2 linked regions of the Homo sapiens genome follow. The protein of the gene in region 2 interacts with the protein of the main gene of each other region in a pairwise test. Each region holds a gene or a part of one and is shown on either strand. Other genes may lie near its edges.

Region 1 (9,299 bases), on a different chromosome or scaffold from region 2:
GTATCTAAATTTTGGTGTGTGCTAGGGCTAAGCCTCCAGGTGGTCTGGGATTAATGGGAATGGATGGTGACAAATTTGGGGAACTACGCTCTCTGCTGTCATTAGGGGGTGTCGTTTCTAAGGCTCCTGTTTTGCACAGAGCCTGGGATCTAGAAGAAGAGGTGGAACAGTTTGGTGGTGGAGGTGAAGACATCTCAGAAGACCATCATCACAGCTTGAAGCATCAGTTTAGTCATCCTCCAGAGACGTTGCTTTGTGGGACGGGGCTGAAATCATCAGCGGCGTGTGGCTGCTAAGAGGCCCACGGAAGCCTTGGTGTGTCTGTGGGCTCGGGAAGCCTGGCTGAGATGGCAAATCTATACATAGTTAAATCAGAATTGCTTATGTGTAAACAGGGCTTTTCTATATGATTTCTAGTTTGAGTTTTTCCTTTTTTTTAAGATATTAGCCAAAGGTACATTTAAGCTCTAATTGATTATTCTAAACCTGGGTGAACATCAGGATCACACGTGGAGCTTTTAAAGGGAACAGAGGCCAGGGGCCAGGGCCTTCTCTCCCAGAGTGGTTCAGAGCCTGCAAATAAAAAATAAAACGAACAGCTCCCCAGGGAATTTTGATTCTCAGCCACCACTGTTCCCGGCTAAACAAGCGCTCCTTGAACCCTAACATATATAGGACTCTCCTGGGGAACTTCTTAAAATGCAGTCTCTGCTTCAGCAGGTCGGGACTGGGGTCTGAGATTCTGTGTTTCTAGCAAGTTCTCATGTGAGGCTGATGCTGGTGGTCCAGGGATGACCCTGTGAGTAGAAGAGCTCTAAGTCATTTCCGAAGATGCCTGTGACCCCTCACCAAGGTTTTACTACACATCTGCGGCATGTCCAGCACACACTAGGAGCTCTGGGACTCAGTATGATAGACCAGGCAATGCGTTCAGTTCAGCAGCACAGAGTTTCAGAAACAAGTGCAGGAGGCTGTGTCAAATGGCAGAGTGTGTGTTGAAGGTGTGGAACGGTGGCATCATAAATGCAATTATTCTCTAGATTCTTGAAAAGCTAAGTCATTCTGCCTTGGCAACCAGCAATCAGAGGTGTCAGGTGATAGATTAAAACTTGACACCTAATTTGATCTGAGGGGAACTGAAAATAATAAGTACCTTATATTTGTGGAGCACCTTATTTTTCCAAAGAGCTCTGAGCACTTTACCAACTCCCTCGCCTGGAGAAGGGAGGGTGGAGGGGGAGCTTTAATAACAGTCTTCAAGGTTCTGAAGCCTTATTAGTAAGTGAATGGTGGCCAGCTGTTCACAGTCCCCCTTCCTCCCTCAACCTGAAAAGCATACAAGAAAAAAGGGCTTCAGTTGCTGTACATGCCTGCATGGGAAAGACTCTTGGAAGAGGTTGTGTGGGGTGGGAACAGATGCTCGGGGGAGGTAGTGGAGTTCCCTGAAAGGAAGTTCTTACTATCCCATCTTGATCACTTCCTGGCCATGAAACTTTGGCCAATCATTCAACAAGGCAGCAGACCAAATGCTCCCTCCTGGCCCCTAAATTTCTACAGTGTATGATGGCATTTGACTATCTCTCTGGGAGGCCAAGACGGAGCAGGAATGTGTGTGGATGAGGAGATTCTGGAGGGTCCTTCCAGCCCAGAGGGAACCAAAATCCTTTGGTGCAAGAGAGCACCAGCACTGCTTGATGAGATGGGAAGACTGTGGCCTTGCCCTTGTTCTGCTATTTCACCCAGTCTAGGCAACTTTACCTTGCCTGCAGGCCTTCTGCAGAAGAGGCCCAGCAGATGCCCTCTGTGCCGATTCTCCTGAGTGCCTTATAGGAAGTCACCGCAGGCAGTCTTTCGGCCAACTCGGCATTTCCAACCCACCCCCAATTTCTTATCTCAATTGGGTAGAATTGGTTTAACCATTCCAATCTGGAAAAGAAACTAGTCAGGCTCTAAGGCCCCACGTGTGGCCATGGGACAAACTGGACATCAGAAGACTCTGGGGCCTGTGTCGGGTAGAGAAAATAGAAATTAGAACGCCAGCCTGTACAAGCCTGTATGGGCTGGTATTTCCCCCAGAGCCGGATTGCTGGCCCCCAGTGTCTGCAGTCCTGGGATGCTGAGCTTCTTGTTTAGAGCCTCTTGTCGTTCTGATGGCACTAGATTCCTGGGCATGTGAGTCGAGGAAGTGAAATAGAATTGGCGGAGTTAAGCCGAATAGACCAGTGTTTCCGAGCTGGAAAAAAACGTGGAGATTAATCTAATGCAACCTCTTGTTTTATAAGTAAGAAAAACTATGATCCAAAAAGAGGAAGTGACTTTCCCAAAGGCGCCCACACTTGTCAGCAGCACCACCCGATCTAGAAGCGAGGGCTTTGCCACACTGCACTGCTTCTCTCTTGTCCTGTGGTCCATGGCTGAAATCTGCTCCTGAAAAGCAGGTGTTCATTTACTTTTCAGTCCTTCTTGCTTCTCTCTCAAAGCAGAACAGTTCTTCAGCTCAAGGGGTCCTGGCCCACTTCCCTCTCCCTTCCTGGGCTGCTAGCTAAACCTCATTCTGCGATCTTTGTCATTGGTGACAATGTACAGCATGGTGCAAAAAATAGCAGTTTGATTTTTTTTTCTCCACGTTCCAAGTTGAGCTTGAAGTGCTGGCAGTTTAAAATGAACCACACAAATAAATCTTGTTTTGACTCATAGTCCAGGGGATGGATAAATATGGAAACCCCCAAGATATAATTTTGCAGGCATTTTTTTTCTTAGCATAACTGCATGCTTTAATGTGCTGAAAAAATTTTTGCTCTAGCTCCAGAGAAATAGCAGCACTATCCCAGCTAAGTGCTTTTTCATGCCTCCTAGCAAATAGATATTAAAACGCACGCACACACACACACACACATGCACATAGGCAACAACCAACCAAACCCAGCAGCTGCACATTCTGAGCTGAATGCCAATCCACTGCTCCAAGTTGACAGCTCTTGTTATTTAAAGTCAGAGATGGGTGATCTTTTGAATTTCAACAAGTCTGTCTTCCAACAAGCTCAAGTTCACAGAAAGGCAGCTGAAATAACTGAAGGTGGAGGGAAGGCTCTCTGTTAGAGGGTCATAGAACAGAACCTGGCTTTGGAACAGAGAGACACAGAAAAGAGGAGAGACTCAGATGAGTCACATGGAGAGATGGTGACAGAGCTAGGGCAGAACCCACATCTCCTAAAGAGAGATTGTGTGCCTGATGAAGGAGCTAAGATGACTTCACTCCAACCTGTCATGCTGATGGGATTTTTACCAACATCTCTCACAGTCTCAAGACAACAGAGTTTGAGTAGACCTGAGACCTGTTCACCAAAGCCCTAGGGGCTTGAAGGAGGTGTTGCTTCATCTAGGAGGTAATTTTGAACATCTTGTGCTGAGTGGTATGCAGGCTGAAAACCTAGTTAGGTATGAGAAAGGTGTAAAGTTTAGACAGATAGTTCCAGACTTTTGGGGTCAAAGTCAGAGAGGACCATGAGACACCTACCCCAATACCAGCTCCTCTCCCTGCCCCTGTGCCAGAGACTGATGACCTTGGGCCAGGGTGATGGTGACTGACTGTGATAGTTAGCACACTCCCTGGTCTTATGGGTATTCTCATTTATTTTTGCCAAATATTTGGAGATGAGTCTGTTTCTCCTTTATCGGTGGCAGGCCAGGGTCCCTGCAGGGAAGCCAGTTGTCCAGAGTGGCTGTGTAAGAGAGGAACAATACAAAGAACAGAAACCGCAGCTCCTGCTGAGTGCTTTGCTTTTAAATTTTTTTTTTCTGCTCCTTCTAAGCTCCTTTATTTTTATATCCAGGAATTGCTTTGGTTTTTTTTTTTTTTTTTTTTTTTTTTTTTTTTTGACAGAGTCTCTCTCTGTCACTGAGGCTGGAGTGCAGTGGCACAATCTTGGCTCACTGCAAGCTCCGCCTCCCAGGTTGAAGCAATTCTCTGCCTCAGCCTCCCAAGTAGCTGGGACTACAGGTGCCCACCACCACACCTGGCTAAATTTTGTATTTTTAGTAGAGACAGGGTTTCACCATCTTGGCCAGGCTGGTCTTGAACTCCTGACCTCATGATCCACCCACCTCGGCCTCCCAAAAAAAAAAAAAAAGAAGAAACCTGCCCTTTCTTTTCCCAGGACGCAAGAGGCACCATTGCTGTTTATGGTGCATAGGACCCAGATGTTGGGCTTATGACCCATTCCCTACCCCATCCTATTGGGTCATTCAGTATCCATCATCCCCTCTGCAAGCGAGGAAACAGAAGCCAGTGCCCATTCCAAATAATACCAAAACCTGGGGTAGAATTCTGCCCTGGGATTTCAAGTCTGATGCTCATATTTTCAGAGTTTCCATGTCAAGAAATCCCACAAGCCTTAATCATTCCTCACACATAAATCTACAAATATCTCTCTCCCATGTGCTCTAAACAGCAAGCCGCTTGGCCCATTTCCCTGCTTCCTCCTCCTTTCTTCCCTTTCCGTGAAAAGCTCTTCGCACAAGTATCCCGTGGCACAGCACGGTCAGAGGAGGGGGTGTTCCCATTAGTGAACGCTCTAGCTAATAGGGGGCCACAGGGTTCCATATATGCCATCAGTGGCTTTCTCACTTTCAAGTAGTTGGAATATGTACAATCCACTTAGGACATCAACTGCAGTGTCCAGAATTTAATCTATTTTTGATGGGTCAGAAGACACTGTAAGATCTTGTAGCGCCTTTGAGTCATCATTGCAAACACAAGTTACCATCTGACCAATAGATACCATTTTTAGAGGGTTCCAGTTAATAAGATACTAAGTAGCAGAGACTTGATTGGAAATAAGAATCTAGAGGAAAAGGTTGGAGAAGTGAGGACCCATATACTAAAGAGTTCTCATAATTCAGTGCTTATGGTGTTGAATGTTCTTTTTGATTCTCTGAGCCTTAACTTTCTCATTTGTTAAATAAGAATTTTTTTCCCCTATTAAATGGCAGTAAAAACGAATGCACAGATTAAGGAAACATTGAGGCTTAATTTCAAACATAATAGCATTTAAATTTAAAATTGGTATATCTGTAAGATGGACTTTGGACATTTATTTGAAATGCTCAAGTAAAACAGCTAAAGTATTGGCAAAACTGTAACTGCTTATTAGCTTCTGTTATCCCACAGGTCCCTCTATTTAGTAAAACATTTAGCTACAATGAATAACTATTTGTTACTAAATTATGATTAAAAGCCCCTAATTAAATATTTAAGTAAAAATAACAACCTTCTTCAATGTGCACATTACCACATTTACTCACTGAATGGCAGTCGGTGGTCCCGGGCCCTTTGGGCGCCCTCAGGAGAGACACACACGGTGCCCCTTTCACCAGGGAGGAGGTGGAGACCCGGGAAGCAGGCCCCTGGCTGGTAAGCCACAGCCATTGGGGAAGTAAACAATGTGATACCTTGAATAAACCTGTGACTTCTGGCCCAAGCAGTGCAGCTGCTATGGCCACAGTGTTCCTTCTTACACAGGGCTTTCTTCAGAGCCAAAGCGCCCAGTGACAGGGGTCTGTGGTGCCAGCCTCCAGCAAGGCACATGGCAGTCATTTATGGAGCCTTGTGGGCGCAAGACCATGAGGCAGATTTGGATCCAACCCTCAGAAGCTTATGTGCAATCAGGAGGCCTCTAGTGATGCAGTTTCTAATCAAAGCAGCCTCCAGAACAACTCCAAACCATGGGGCATTCATGGCCTTGGTCCATCGGACTAAGCCTGGCCAATTAGGCACGCCCTCAGGGTGCTGTAAGCTCTGGAAGGAGGCATGCAGCCTGTTGGCATCAACTGTCCCCTCATCCAGCACACCTTGGGGGGCCTGCTGTTCCATCTAAGATCCAAGGAGCATCGTGAAGGGGGAGCGGTCATTGCACACACAGGGACTAGGAGACACCACAGGCAGGCCTCAGGCACCTTGCAAAAGCATGATAAACTGAGGCTCTTGGAGAAGGCGGCTGTTTTCTGCTTTCAGGATGACTCTGTTACGGCCTCACCTTTTATGGCAGCAGGGGATTCTCAAGCGAGGTCCCATCTGTCCAGCCGGCATTGTTAGCCTGCCCTCTGGGCAATCCTATGACACCCCTCTCAGTTGAAAACATTTTCTGTTCTGCAGGAAGCTGTGGGAGACCGGGTGCCTGTTCTTCTGCTGGGTAATAAGCTTGACAACGAGAAGGAGCGGGAAGTCCCCCGGGGCCTCGGAGAGCAGCTTGCCACGGTAAAGAGCAAGCATTTCCATCTCTCTGGACAGAGTGTGACCCCGAGGGAAGTTGGGCAAGTGCCCAAGAGCCTTGGTGGGGACTTTCTCTGGAAGTGCCATGGGAAGGAAGCAACTGGAAAACATGGGTGTCTTGGTATCCTGGGAATGGCTCAGCTCCTGTGCATGTAGAACTTTGCATAGAAAGCCACAGGTTGCAAGATGGAGTTGGTTAGGGACCACTAGGGCATGGGGAATTATCCTAAAGTCCCTTCCTTGTAACTCAGAAGTATACATTCTAAGATAGCAATAGTTTACTTATTTCAATCCCCCTCCAATCTGCATTTCCACTTGATCACCCCCAGGGATGAAAAACTCACTCTCTGCAAAGCAGTGTATTCTTCTGCAGACCACTGTGTTAGAGAGTTCATCCTTTTTGTCAGGATTGAGCCTCAAAGTCATGAACTCAAGATAAACTCAGGAGACACACTGGAAAACCTACCATTAAAAAGCATGGAGCCCCTTGCTCAAAAATGGAATCAATGGGGCTTAATGGAAATCAGGCAACAAAATGTGGTTCCTTGGCTTCTTTTACTGCCTCAGAGTTTGTTTTCATGGAACTGTGTGTCTGGGAGGTTGGGGTGCTTACCAGCCCCATGATTCTGTAATTCTTTGCATGCTCATCCTAAACAGCGTTTCATGAGTTCAGAGCCTGGGAGAACGAGCACAGATGGTAAGACTCAAGGAAAAAGGAGGAGGAAGGGCCTGGCAGGTATCTACATGGAGGGTCACTAGACAGTTACATGTCCACAATTCCGAAATCCAAAAAGCTCTGAAAACAGAAAGGGTTGTTTTGTATTTTATCTGGCAGAAAAATCTGACCAGAAATGACACGAGGCTATTCATGGTTGTAACCTCACTTTGAGTGAATAGTCAAAGGTTTCACTGAAGAAATAGTAATATATTTGATTATAGAGTGCTGTCTGAAATCCACTGAGGGTATTATATAATATATGGTATATACATGTATTACCTTTCTAAGATTCAGAAAATTCTGGATTTCAAAATATACCTGGACCCAAAGATTCTATCCATTCTCTTTTCTTTTCTTTTTTTTTTTTGTTAGTGAAAAAAAAACTAAGACTCGGGAGTTAAGTGATACATTCGTATTATCACAGCTCACCCGAGGTGGGGTCAGAACTCAAAGCAGGAAGGCAAATCATGTCTTCCAGTTCTAAGTCCTATGTCCTTCTCTCCCCTCCCCACTATTCCCACCCCATGGAACTTCTACTCTTTGACAGACTGACCCAAGAGATTGCAGATCTGAGAGAAATGCAGACAAGGAGAAATAGAGCCCATGGGGCTGGGTGAAAAGGGCAGAGGGTCGAGCTGGCCTGTGGGTGTAGATGGGGAAAGCTGCACTGGGAGCATGGCAGAGCCTCCTGAGCTACAGCCACAGAACTGTCCTCACTCAACTGGCCTGCATCCCCTCAGGGCATCAGCCTCCAAGAACAGGCCATCTAAAAGCCAGGGCCCTGTGCCATCAGCATTGTCATAATGACACCAGTAATCTATTAATGGGAGTGATCAATGGAATATGATGAGCCTTAACCAAGGGCTCCCGCACCATGCAGGCAGCACAACCTCATCCTAATGAGCTGACGGCCAGTCTGGTGCACCAGTGCTGACAGCCAGGGCAGCTAGAGTATTAATTAACTGGTGCGAAAGAGAATTCCTACCGGAGTGCCTCATGACACCTGTCCCCAAGGCCTATGGAATGCCACTGTCTTGGGAAAAGCATGCTGCAAGGAGCTCTGCCATTAACTCAATGTGGGACTGAACAAGCCAGCCAAGTGCCCTCTCTCACTACAGCTTATCTGCCTGTGAAAGGGGGAAGAATATTGCCCACCCTGGCCTTTGTGTCTTTGCCTGAATCACAGGGCTGGTGTAACCTGGAATGAGCATGTGTGTACTTGAGAGGAATTTGGGAAAGTGTAAAGAGGAACTAAGACAGCGTATGGTTTCATTGTTTTACAATTGTTATAGCTCACCTGGGAGATGGTTACAGAGCTTGCATTGTCAGGGAGGCTGTGGAGACAGAAATCAGCCATGTACAGAGTGGGGAAGGATTATGAGGAAGGTCAAGGGGCTGCGAGAGGAAGTGAAGGCTGTAGGTAGATGCACAAGGGGGCTCTCCCACCACCCCCCACAATCCCCTCTCACTCCAATACTCTTGTATTCGCTCTGTTTTATGATTCTAGGAGAACAATCTGATCTTCTATGAATGCAGCGCCTACTCTGGTCACAACACCAAAGAGTCCCTGCTCCATCTGGCCAGGTAAAGAGATGTGCTCCCCAGGTGCAGTAACTGCTGTGTCCAGCTGTGTCTGCCTTCAGGGAGGCACCGTGTTTCCCTCCACCCAGGCCACACCTCTGACCCCCCTTCCTCCCTATTGGCCAGAGCCCTCTGAGTATAGGCAACGGGGTCCTGGGCCTTTGTATGGGATTGCAACATCAGGAGCAGCTTTCTGAAACAATGATGTTGGGAAAGAAAGCATCCCTACCTGTCACCCCCATTGCAGTCTTCTTCTTAGTCTTAAAGGCTGCCTTTTCCTAGGGATGCTCTTTTTAAATGCCAATCCTTCTGGGGGAAGGCCAGATCAGAGGCCCCTCAGCACTGGCTGATGTCTTAGCAGGGACTAGCTGGAAGCCAGCTGGAGGCAAGAATGGGTTATAATATGAGTTCCTGGGTGTGGGAGGAAGGAGTGGGTGTAGAAACCAGAAAGAAGAGGGGCTGTGATGGGAAATCAATGGGAGGTAACCAAGGTAATGGTGCTGGTAGCATGAAAAGACTGGTTCCTTAAGGCCCTGCCTACACCAAAAATTTAAACAACAAAACCATGCTGGGACTCATTTCTGATACTTAAGAATTCACTCATTCATTCATCCATCTAGGCCTTCATTTCATTCCATCTATTCATCCGTCCAGCAAATACTTAACAGAGCCCATTTTGTGCTCAGCACTCATTCTGGGGCACTTAAAAATATTTTTCTTTGAGTAATT
Region 2 (9,299 bases):
GGTCACACAGTCTAGGCAGGGAGATTGTACAAACAAATAATTGCAAACTATTATAGTAGTAATAGTCAATTTTTTTTTTTTTTAGCATTTATTCTGTGCTAAGCACTAGTCTTAAGTCATGAAGGAAAAGAGATGTATTTGACGGAATAAAAATGAAAACTGTCTGTGAGGTCCTGTTTTAGCATTTAGGGCTATAGTGATTGAATCTGTGTTCAATAGAGCTGATGTTCAAGTAAGAGGGGAACTTAAATAAGTAAAATAATTTCTAGTATTGGTAAGTGCTGCAAAGAAACTAAGGTTATGTGAAAGACAATACCTGTAGGATGTGTTGCTTTTAGTACGTAAGTCAGAGGAGACTTCTGTGAGGAAGTGACATTTGAATTGTGACTTGAATGATGAAAAGAAGGGAGCCAGACAAATTTCTAGGCAGAGGCCCTGAGGCAGGAATGAGCTTGATGTGTTGGAGTGATAGAAAGAAGGCCAGTGTGGCTGGAGTGTAAGAGGAAAGTGGTAGAAGAAGTTTGAGAAGCAGAAAGAGGCCAGGGAGACAGCTCTGTAGGCAGGAGAGTGGACAGGACCCGATGTACATTTGTGAAGATCATTGTGGCTGCTGTGTGGAAAATTGATTGTAGGGGGTGTTGTGGGTTGAATTGTGTTCCCCAAAAAGACATGTTTAAGTCCTATCCCCTAGAACCTGTGAGTGTGAACTACTTGGGATAGGGTCTTTGCAAATATAATTCAAGTAAGGATGAGGTCATACTGAATCAAAGGGGGCCCTAATCTGGTGACTGGTATCTTTATAAGAAGAGGGAAATTTGGATACACATGGACACACAGGGAGAATGCCATGCCAGGAAGGAGGAGGCAGCAAGATTGCAGTATGTGTCTATAAGACAAGGAATGCTAAAGATTGCCAGTAATCACCACAAGCTAGGAAGAGGCAAGGAAGAATCCTTCTTTAGAGCTTTCAGAGAGAGAGAATAGCCCTGCTGACATCTTGATTTCTGACCTCTAGTTTCTAGAATTGTGAGACAATCAATTTATGCTGTCTAAGCTGCTCAGTTTGTGGTCATTTGTTACAGCAGCCTCAGGAAGGTAATAGAGGATGAAAACCAAAAAGTAGTTGAGACAAGTCTCAACCAGTTTAGAAGTTTATTTTGCCAAGGTTAAGGACGTGTCACAGACAGCCTCAGGAGGTCCTGACAGCATGTGCCCAAAGTGGTCGGGCTACACTTGGGTTTTACACATTTTAAGGAGCCACAGGACATCAATCAGTACAAGTCTTTTATGCTTTATTTATAGGTTGATTCTTAAACATTGAAAACTTATCAACTATTTACCATATTGTAATTATACAATCATCATTCGCTATAAAACTATTAAGTATGATTGCATCTGCAGAGAAAAAATGTAATTCTACCTCTGCCAATTAAGGTATCCTATTAGCTTCCTAATAATGGCACCATGTTTGCTAAAATAAACTCATTTTGCTCCTGAAGCTGTATTTCCAGCTCTCACACATGTAATTTAGACTAGTTGCTTTACAAGTCAGTTGCATACCTGTTTACTGAGATTTTTTTGTATCATGCCTGGGTTAGGTCTACTGCTTTATGTATTCCATGTCCTCATTTGTCATAGATTTTTTTCCCACCTTGTAGGGGTATAACTAATTTCAAGCAATTTTTTTCAGGAAGGATTAAACAGGTAATTTAATTTCCACAGACTTCATATGTCTGAAAATGCCTTTACCTTGCCTGCTCATTTAATGATAGCTTGGGAATAGACTTAGTCCACAATCATTTTGTTTTCTTCAAAACTCTGAAGACATTCTCTTGCTTTTTGTGTCTAGTGTATCTGATGACAAGTCTAATGCCAGTCTCTTTCTTTTGCAGGTATCATACTTTTTTCTCTGGAAGATTTTATTAGACTGTTTTCTTTATCATTGGTTCTGTGATATTTTATCAGTGTTTCTAGGTGGTGAATCTTTTTTCATTCATCCTTCTTGGCACTCTATGAATCCTATTTTTCACTTCTGGGAAATTTTCTTCAATTATTTCTTTAATTATGTTCTTGACATTTTCTCTGTTCTATTCAGAATTTAGATAGGTTCTTCCAAATACATTTAGATAGATTCTTCCAAATACAGAGGAAAAATATAAAAAGAAAAAATACATAATACGAAGGATCAATCCAAGAGGTCCATTTCCTTGATTTTCAGTTCTTTTCACTTTCTTTTTTCAGTGGTTTTTTCCCCACAGTTTCTAGTCATCTAGTTATTTTTAATGGATGCATTGTTCTCATGACATGAATTTCTTTGAGGATAACACTTATAACTTTTAAATATTTATGTCCCATTCCCGGAAATAGCTCTGCTTCTTTCAGGTCAGTTGTTTATTTTCATCCTTTCTGTCTGTTGTGCTTTTACTTCAAAAAAAAAAATTCTTGGCGGGGCATAGTGGCTCACACCGGTAATTCCAGCACTTTGAGAGATCACCTGAGGTCTGGAAGGTCAAGACCAGCCTGGCCAACATGGTGAAACCCTGTCTCTCCGAAAATAAAAAAATTAGCCGGAAGTCTTGGCAGGCTTCTGTAATCCCAGCTACTCAAGAGGCTGGGGCAGGAGAATCACTTAAACCTGGGAGGCGGAGGTTGCAGTGAGCCGAGATTGCGCCATTGCACTCCAGCCTGGATGACAAAAGTGAAACTTCATCTAAAAAAAAAAAAATTATTGAGCTCTTTTGTAAGTGAGCAGGGTACTAGCTGTTGGGTCTAACTTTAGGGTCCTTGAGTGAAGTGCAAGAAACGAGTTGCCTCTTTCCTCCTCTCCTTCCACCCTGTACCCAAATAAGGAATGCTTTGTTATGGAACATGAAGATGCTCAAAGGCTTCCAGGGTAGACTGTTAAATTAAAAAGAGCAATAACAACAAAATAGATGTGGTTTTAGCCAGAAACAAATACTGTTGCTGCCAGGCGTTTTGTGTGTAAAGGGCTGTGGTAAAAAGTTTGGCTTGCTGTTTCATATAAATATTATAATAATTCTGATTTTAGTCCTACGTCCTTCCTCTGCTTGTTTCTAAGATTGGTACCTCTCCAGGCTCTGCTGGCAAGAATGTCTTCTACATTGCTATAGCCTTCTCATGTATGCATGTGTGTGTGTTCTGGACTGCAGTTTTCTCTGCACTGGCTTAATCCTCAGCATAATCCTACCTGCTTTCTCTTCCAGAATGAATGAGTGCATTTCAGTGCGATTTTGTTAGGAAGCGGAGGAAAATGTATGTGCTTAGTTTGCCTTGCATAGAGTGAGTAATCCATTGTTTTTTTGTTTGTTTGTTTGTTTTTGAGACAGGGTCTCGCTTTGTCACCCGGGCTAGAGTGCAGTTGCATGATCACTGCTCACTGCCATCCCAACCTCTGGGGCTCAAGCGATCCTCCCATCACCTCAGCCTCCTGAGTAGCTGGGACTACAGGTGTGCACCAGCCTGCCTAGCTAATTTTTTTATTTTTTGAATTCTTGGTTTCCCAGAGTGTTGGGATTACAGATGTGAGCCATGGCACCCAGCCAGTACTTGTTGAATAAATCAATGCTGTTGAAAAAATTGGGCAAGGCATACTGTTGTTTAAAAAGAAAATTATGGCTGTAGGAGATAAGTAATTAGGTGAATCTTTTAAATCCTGTTTTAAAAAGTCCTATTTTATTTTGTCCTAATTAAAAAAGAATCTCCGCCGGGCGTGGTGGCTCACGCCTGTAATCCCAGCACTTTGGGAGGCTGAGGCAGGCGGATCACCTGAGGTTGGGAATTCAAGACCAGCCTGACCAACCTGGAGAAACCCTGTCTCTCCTGAAAATAGAAAATTAGACAGGCGTGGTGGCTCATGCCTGTAATCTCAGCTACTCTGGAGGCTGAAGCAGGAGAATCACTTGAACCTGGGAGGCAGACATTGTGGTGAGCCAAGATGGCGCCATTGTACTCCAGACTGGGCAACAAGAGTGAAACTCTGTCTCAAAAGAAAAAAAAAATGGAAAGAATCTCAAAGGGGTTAAGCCCTACCAATGGAGGTACAAAATGAGATAACTACCATCTCTCACTTTTTTTTTTTTTTTTGGAGACAGAGTCTCACTTTGTTGCCTAGACTAGAGTGCAATGGCATGGTTTTGGCTCATTGTAGCCTCAACCTCCTGGGCTAAAGTGATCCTCCCACCTCAGCCTTCTCAGTAGCTGGAACTACAGGTGTGCACCACCACGCCTGGCTAATTTTTTTTGTATTTTTTGTAAGAGATAGGGTTTTGCCATGTTGCCCAGGCTGGTCTTGAACTCCTGGGCTCAAGTGATTTGCCCCCTCAAGCCTCCCAAAGTGCTGGGATTACAGGTGTGAGCCACTTGCCCGGCTTCCTTTTTTGTTCTTTTTAAAATTGTAGGCCTTAATTTCATTTTGTTCCTGTTCAGTGCTTAGCACAGTTCCTGGCATGTTGTAAATGTTCAATAAATGATACTACATTTGTTTTACTTAAGCAATTTTCATCATCGTAGAAAATAAGGATTAAATGAGTTAATATACATAAAGCACTTGGAATAGAATCTAGCATATAGTTAGTGCTACATAAGTGTTAACCATTATTCTCTGACACATGAACACCTTTTTGTTTTTTCTATGAAGCTTTCTCTGATTCTGCTACTTTGAATTGGTAATTTGCCTTTCTGTATTCTGGTTGTATTTTATTTATTTGTTATTAGTTTTAGAGACAGAGTATTGCTGTGTTGTTCAGGCTGAAGTGTAGGGGCCTTATGATAGCTCACTGCAGCCTTGAACTTCTGGGCTCAAGAGATCCTTCTGCTTTATCCTCCAGAGTGGCTAGGACTGCAGACATGTGCCACTATGCCCAGCTAATTTTTACATTTTTGTAGAGACATGGTCTCACTATATTGCCCAGGCTGGTCTCAAACTACTGACTTCAAGTGATCCCCTTGCTTTGGCCTCCCAAATTGCTGAGATTACAGGCACGAGCACCATACCCACCCCTCTGCTTGTATTTTATATCACATCTTTTATATTAAATAACATAGATTTGTTTGCTTGTGTGTTTCTCCACCAAATATGATTCTTGATAGCCGGGGACTATCTTATTTATTTTGGTGGTCTCAGTGCATAGTCATTGCTTGCCACATAACATTAGTTCGCTCATTTGAGCTAGGTCTTAAAGAATGAGGAGGGTGGTGTGATTGGAGCATGAGGGGCAGGGGAGTACGTCAGTGGGAAGTGAAATTTGACAAATACACTGATACCAGATTGACCAGATGGTAAGTAGTTGAATGCCAGATTAAAGGATTTGAATTTATTTTATATGCAGCAGGAAGACATTTTGATTACTGACCTCAGTTTCATATTTTAGGTAAGTAATTCTGAGTGCACAGTAGAGCGTGTATTGGAAAGAGGAAAAGAGATTGGAAACAAGAAGAATATGTAAGAAACTCTGGCTCTTGATGTATGATAAGGCTCTTTAGTTGAGAATCTTTCAGCATGTAACCTTTTACTATCATGTAATCTTTTAAGCCTTATCACAAAAAGCCTTCAGGGCTTCCTTGGTAACTTCATTTTGACTTTGTTAAAAGAAAAACTTTAGACGAAATCAATTTATCAGAATTTGTTTTTGTGTTAAAGGATTAATGAATTTGGCAGCACCCAAAATTAGAAGTAGTTCAGGGAGCTCTTGTTTTAACAGAGTAAGCGGCAGACCTTTGCAGGCTGAATGTGGAAGCGAAGTAAAGAAATTACTTGATTGGACTGGGCATAGTGGCTCATACCTGTAATCCCATCATTTTGGGAGGCTGAGGTAGGTGGATCACTTGAGCTCAGGAGTTCAAGACCAGCCTGGGCAACATGGTGAAACTCCATCTCTACAAAAAATGCAAAAATTAGCCAGGCATGGTGGCACATGCCAGTAGTCCCAGCTACTTGGGAGGCTGAGGTGGGAGGATTGCTTGAGCCTGGGAGGTTGAGGCTGCAGTGAGTTGTGATTGTGCCACTGCACTCCAGCCTGGGCAACAGAGCGAGACCCTGTCTTGAAAAAAAAAAAATTACTTGATTGTCATAGCTACTTGTTTGTCTTATTTGGGTACAATCTGGCAGAAAGTTGCTTGTTAGAGAATAGTTGTTGGTTTCTGATTAAAATTAAGTTGTGACATCCTATGGATTGGGAGGAAATATTTGCAAGCCATACATGAGATAAGGGATTAAAATTCAGAATATAAAAGGAACTCAAATAACTCTATAGAAAGAATACAAATAATCCAGTTAAAAAATGGGCAAGGAACCTGTATAGACATTTCTCAAAAGAAGACATACAAATGGCCAACAGATACATGAAAAAATGTTCAACATTACTAATCATCAGGGAAATGCAAATTAAAACCACTATGAGATATCACCCCAATATGTGTCAGAATGGCTACTATCAAACAGATGAAAGATAAGTGTTGGCAAGGCATGTGGAGAAAGGGGAACCTCTGTACACTGTTAATGGCAATGTAAATTAGTACAACCGTTATGGAAAACAGTGGCAGTTCCTCAAAAAACTAAAAATAGAATTACCATATGATCCAGCAATCCAACTTCTGGGTATTTACCTAAAAGATTGGAAATCAGTATGTTGAAGAGATATCTGCACTCCCATGTTCATTGCAGCATTAATCACAATAGCCAAGATACGGAATCAACCTAAGGGTCCTTAGACAGATGAATGGATAAAGAAAAATCTGGTGTACATACGTAGTGGAATACTATTCAGCCTTAAAAATGAAAGAAACTTTGTCATTTGTGACGACATGGATGGATTGGAGAACATTAAGCTAAATGAGATAAGCCAAGTACAAGCAGACAAACAACATATGTGCTTACTTATATATTTAATCTAAAACCGTTGAACTAAAAGAAGCAGAGAGTAGAACAGTGGTTACCAGGGTTGGAGGGAAGGCATGGGGGAATGGGGAGATGATAGTCAAAGGGGAGGAATTTTTTTCTTTGAGATATGTTGCACAGTATGGTGAATATAGTGACTAATAATGTACTTTATACTTGCTAAGAGTAACTTTTAAAAGTTTTCACTACAAAAAAAATTTGAGGTCATGGATATGTTAACTAGATTTAATTATTCCACATTGTATTCATAAATCATCACTTTGTACCTCATAAATATATAACTATAGTCAGTTTATAATTAAAAAATAAAAAGCAAAGATTAAGTTTTGTTTCACTGTTTACATTGGGCTTCAGTTTGCTTACATAGGAACCCAGAGTCCTAGGACCATCTTAGCCAAATGGCCTCCAATTAAAGATTGCTTACACTCTTTTTTTTTTTTTTTTTTTTTTTGAGACAAGAATCCTGCTCTGTTGCGCAGGCTGGAGTGCAGTGGCGCCATCTTGGCTCACTGCAACCTCTGCCTCCTGGGTTCAAGCAATTCTCCTGGCTTAGCCTCCCAAGTAGCTGGGACTACAGGTGCCCGCCACCACACCTGGCTAATTTTTTTGTATTTTTGGTAGAGACGGGGTTTCACCATATTGGTCAGGCAGGTCTCGAACTCCTGACTTCAGGCGATCCACCCGCCTTGGTCTCCCAAAGTGCTGGGATTACAGGCGTTAGCTACCACACCTGGCCAAGATTGCTTACACTTTTTAAAAAATGTTATATTGTTTTTAGTAAAACAAAGGGTAAAATTTAATAAAAAGGCACAAACACATTTTGTGTATATTGTGAAAATACCATCTATTTCCTCCAAAAGCTTATAAATTGATATGAGTATCATAAACCTGTTTATTTTTCTCCTGGACTAAGTATTGTTCAACGTTTAATGTGTATTATGTACAGGGAGGTAATGTGGGACCAGATTTTCTGGTTGGGAAAGGAGATGAGTACTGGTTTTAGTACAATAAGTTTCCATGCTTGTGTAGCACAACTGGAGATGCCTTCATGTAACAGACATATGAAGAGGTTGAGAGAGTAGGCTGGAGATTGGAAGCTATCCAAGTAAAATTGAAGCCTAGGATTTGATGAGTTTGTGTATTTGATAAAGAATAGTGTAAGAGTTGTAACTGGAAACACAATGAAATGTTTTTGTCTTTGGCTTTAGTGACATGGGATGCTTGATCACTAGTGTCTGATGCACCAGAGAAGCATGAAAATTGCAATCTTTGGGTTCAGTGAGGAAGTGGTCATTGGAGACTTGATACTATAATGATTGGGTGGTATGGCAGAGTAAAGTTGAATTGGAAAGGGATTAAGACGAGTTGATAAGGAAGTGAAGCACTGTGTAGTTAAAAAATTTCTGTGAAGAATAAGAAAGCTGGAAGAACACAAGAAACTGTAGGATTAGTGGTGGTTTTTCCAGTTACAGTGTGTGTACATGTGTGGGCGAACCATTTATAAAGAGAAGGAGGCTCAGTACAATTAAGTAAAACAACCAAGAAAATGAAACTGAAATATAGTATTTTAGAAAGGTAAAATGAACCATAGGAATGAAAAGTCCCTGAAATCCAATAAAGCTAATTTTCATCATATAAATTTGACATACAGAAGAAAAATTTTGGTATTTTAATTGTCTTTGGAAGAGTTAAAATTCTTCAACATAGTAGCCACAGGATTACAAAATCTTTGAGTCTGTAATATATGCTTAGAGTGAATTCAAGGTTTTATTTTAGTTTTTTGAGACAGGGTCTTGCTCTGTTGCCCAGCCTGGAGTGCAGTGGTGTGATCATGGCTCACTGCAGCCTCGAACTCCTGGGTTCAGGCAATAGTTCTGCCTCAGCTTCCTGAGTAGCTGGGCCTACAGGTGCATGCCACTACACCTGGCTAATTTTTAAATTTTTTATAGAGATGGTGCTCTTCTGTTGCTCTGGCTGGTCTCTAGCTCCTAACCTGAAGTGATCCTCCCTTCACAGCATCCCATCACAGCACTCCAGAGTACTATGATGACAGGTGTGAGCCACTACACTGGCCAAATTCAAGGTTTTAGAAATCCATAAAAATAGATTGCCAAAAGCTGAATAAATTAATAGACAATACAGTCAGTATTTTTGCTGAAAAAAGATAGGCATAACAGGAACATTTGATAGGTAACTTTTAGCGTGATGTGATGAAGAGAATTTTAAAGCACATTTATCATCTAATTGCCTGGAAAGAAAGAACCAGGGATGGTAAATTAGAAATTTAATAAATTTATCACCCTTTCTGTTTTACAGGACAAGTGAAATGCCGTCTGGAAAACTAATATTTAAAATGTTGGAAGATATTTAAAGTAGATATGTA

What was found.
Region 1: the proteins of ASB3 (region 2) and CRACR2A interact in binary tests that used the Homo sapiens proteins (3 or more experiments, as listed by UniProt).

The regions. Positions count from the first base shown.
Region 1 is NC_000012.12:3,616,228-3,625,526, reverse strand, and holds part of CRACR2A (EF-hand calcium-binding domain-containing protein 4B), read left to right. Parts: intron 1-6,154; coding exon 6,155-6,256; intron 6,257-8,496; coding exon 8,497-8,573; intron 8,574-9,299.
Region 2 is NC_000002.12:53,776,218-53,785,516, reverse strand, and holds part of ASB3 (ankyrin repeat and SOCS box protein 3), read left to right. Parts: intron 1-9,299. UniProt on the Homo sapiens protein: Probable substrate-recognition component of a SCF-like ECS (Elongin-Cullin-SOCS-box protein) E3 ubiquitin-protein ligase complex which mediates the ubiquitination and subsequent proteasomal degradation of target proteins. Recognizes TNFRSF1B.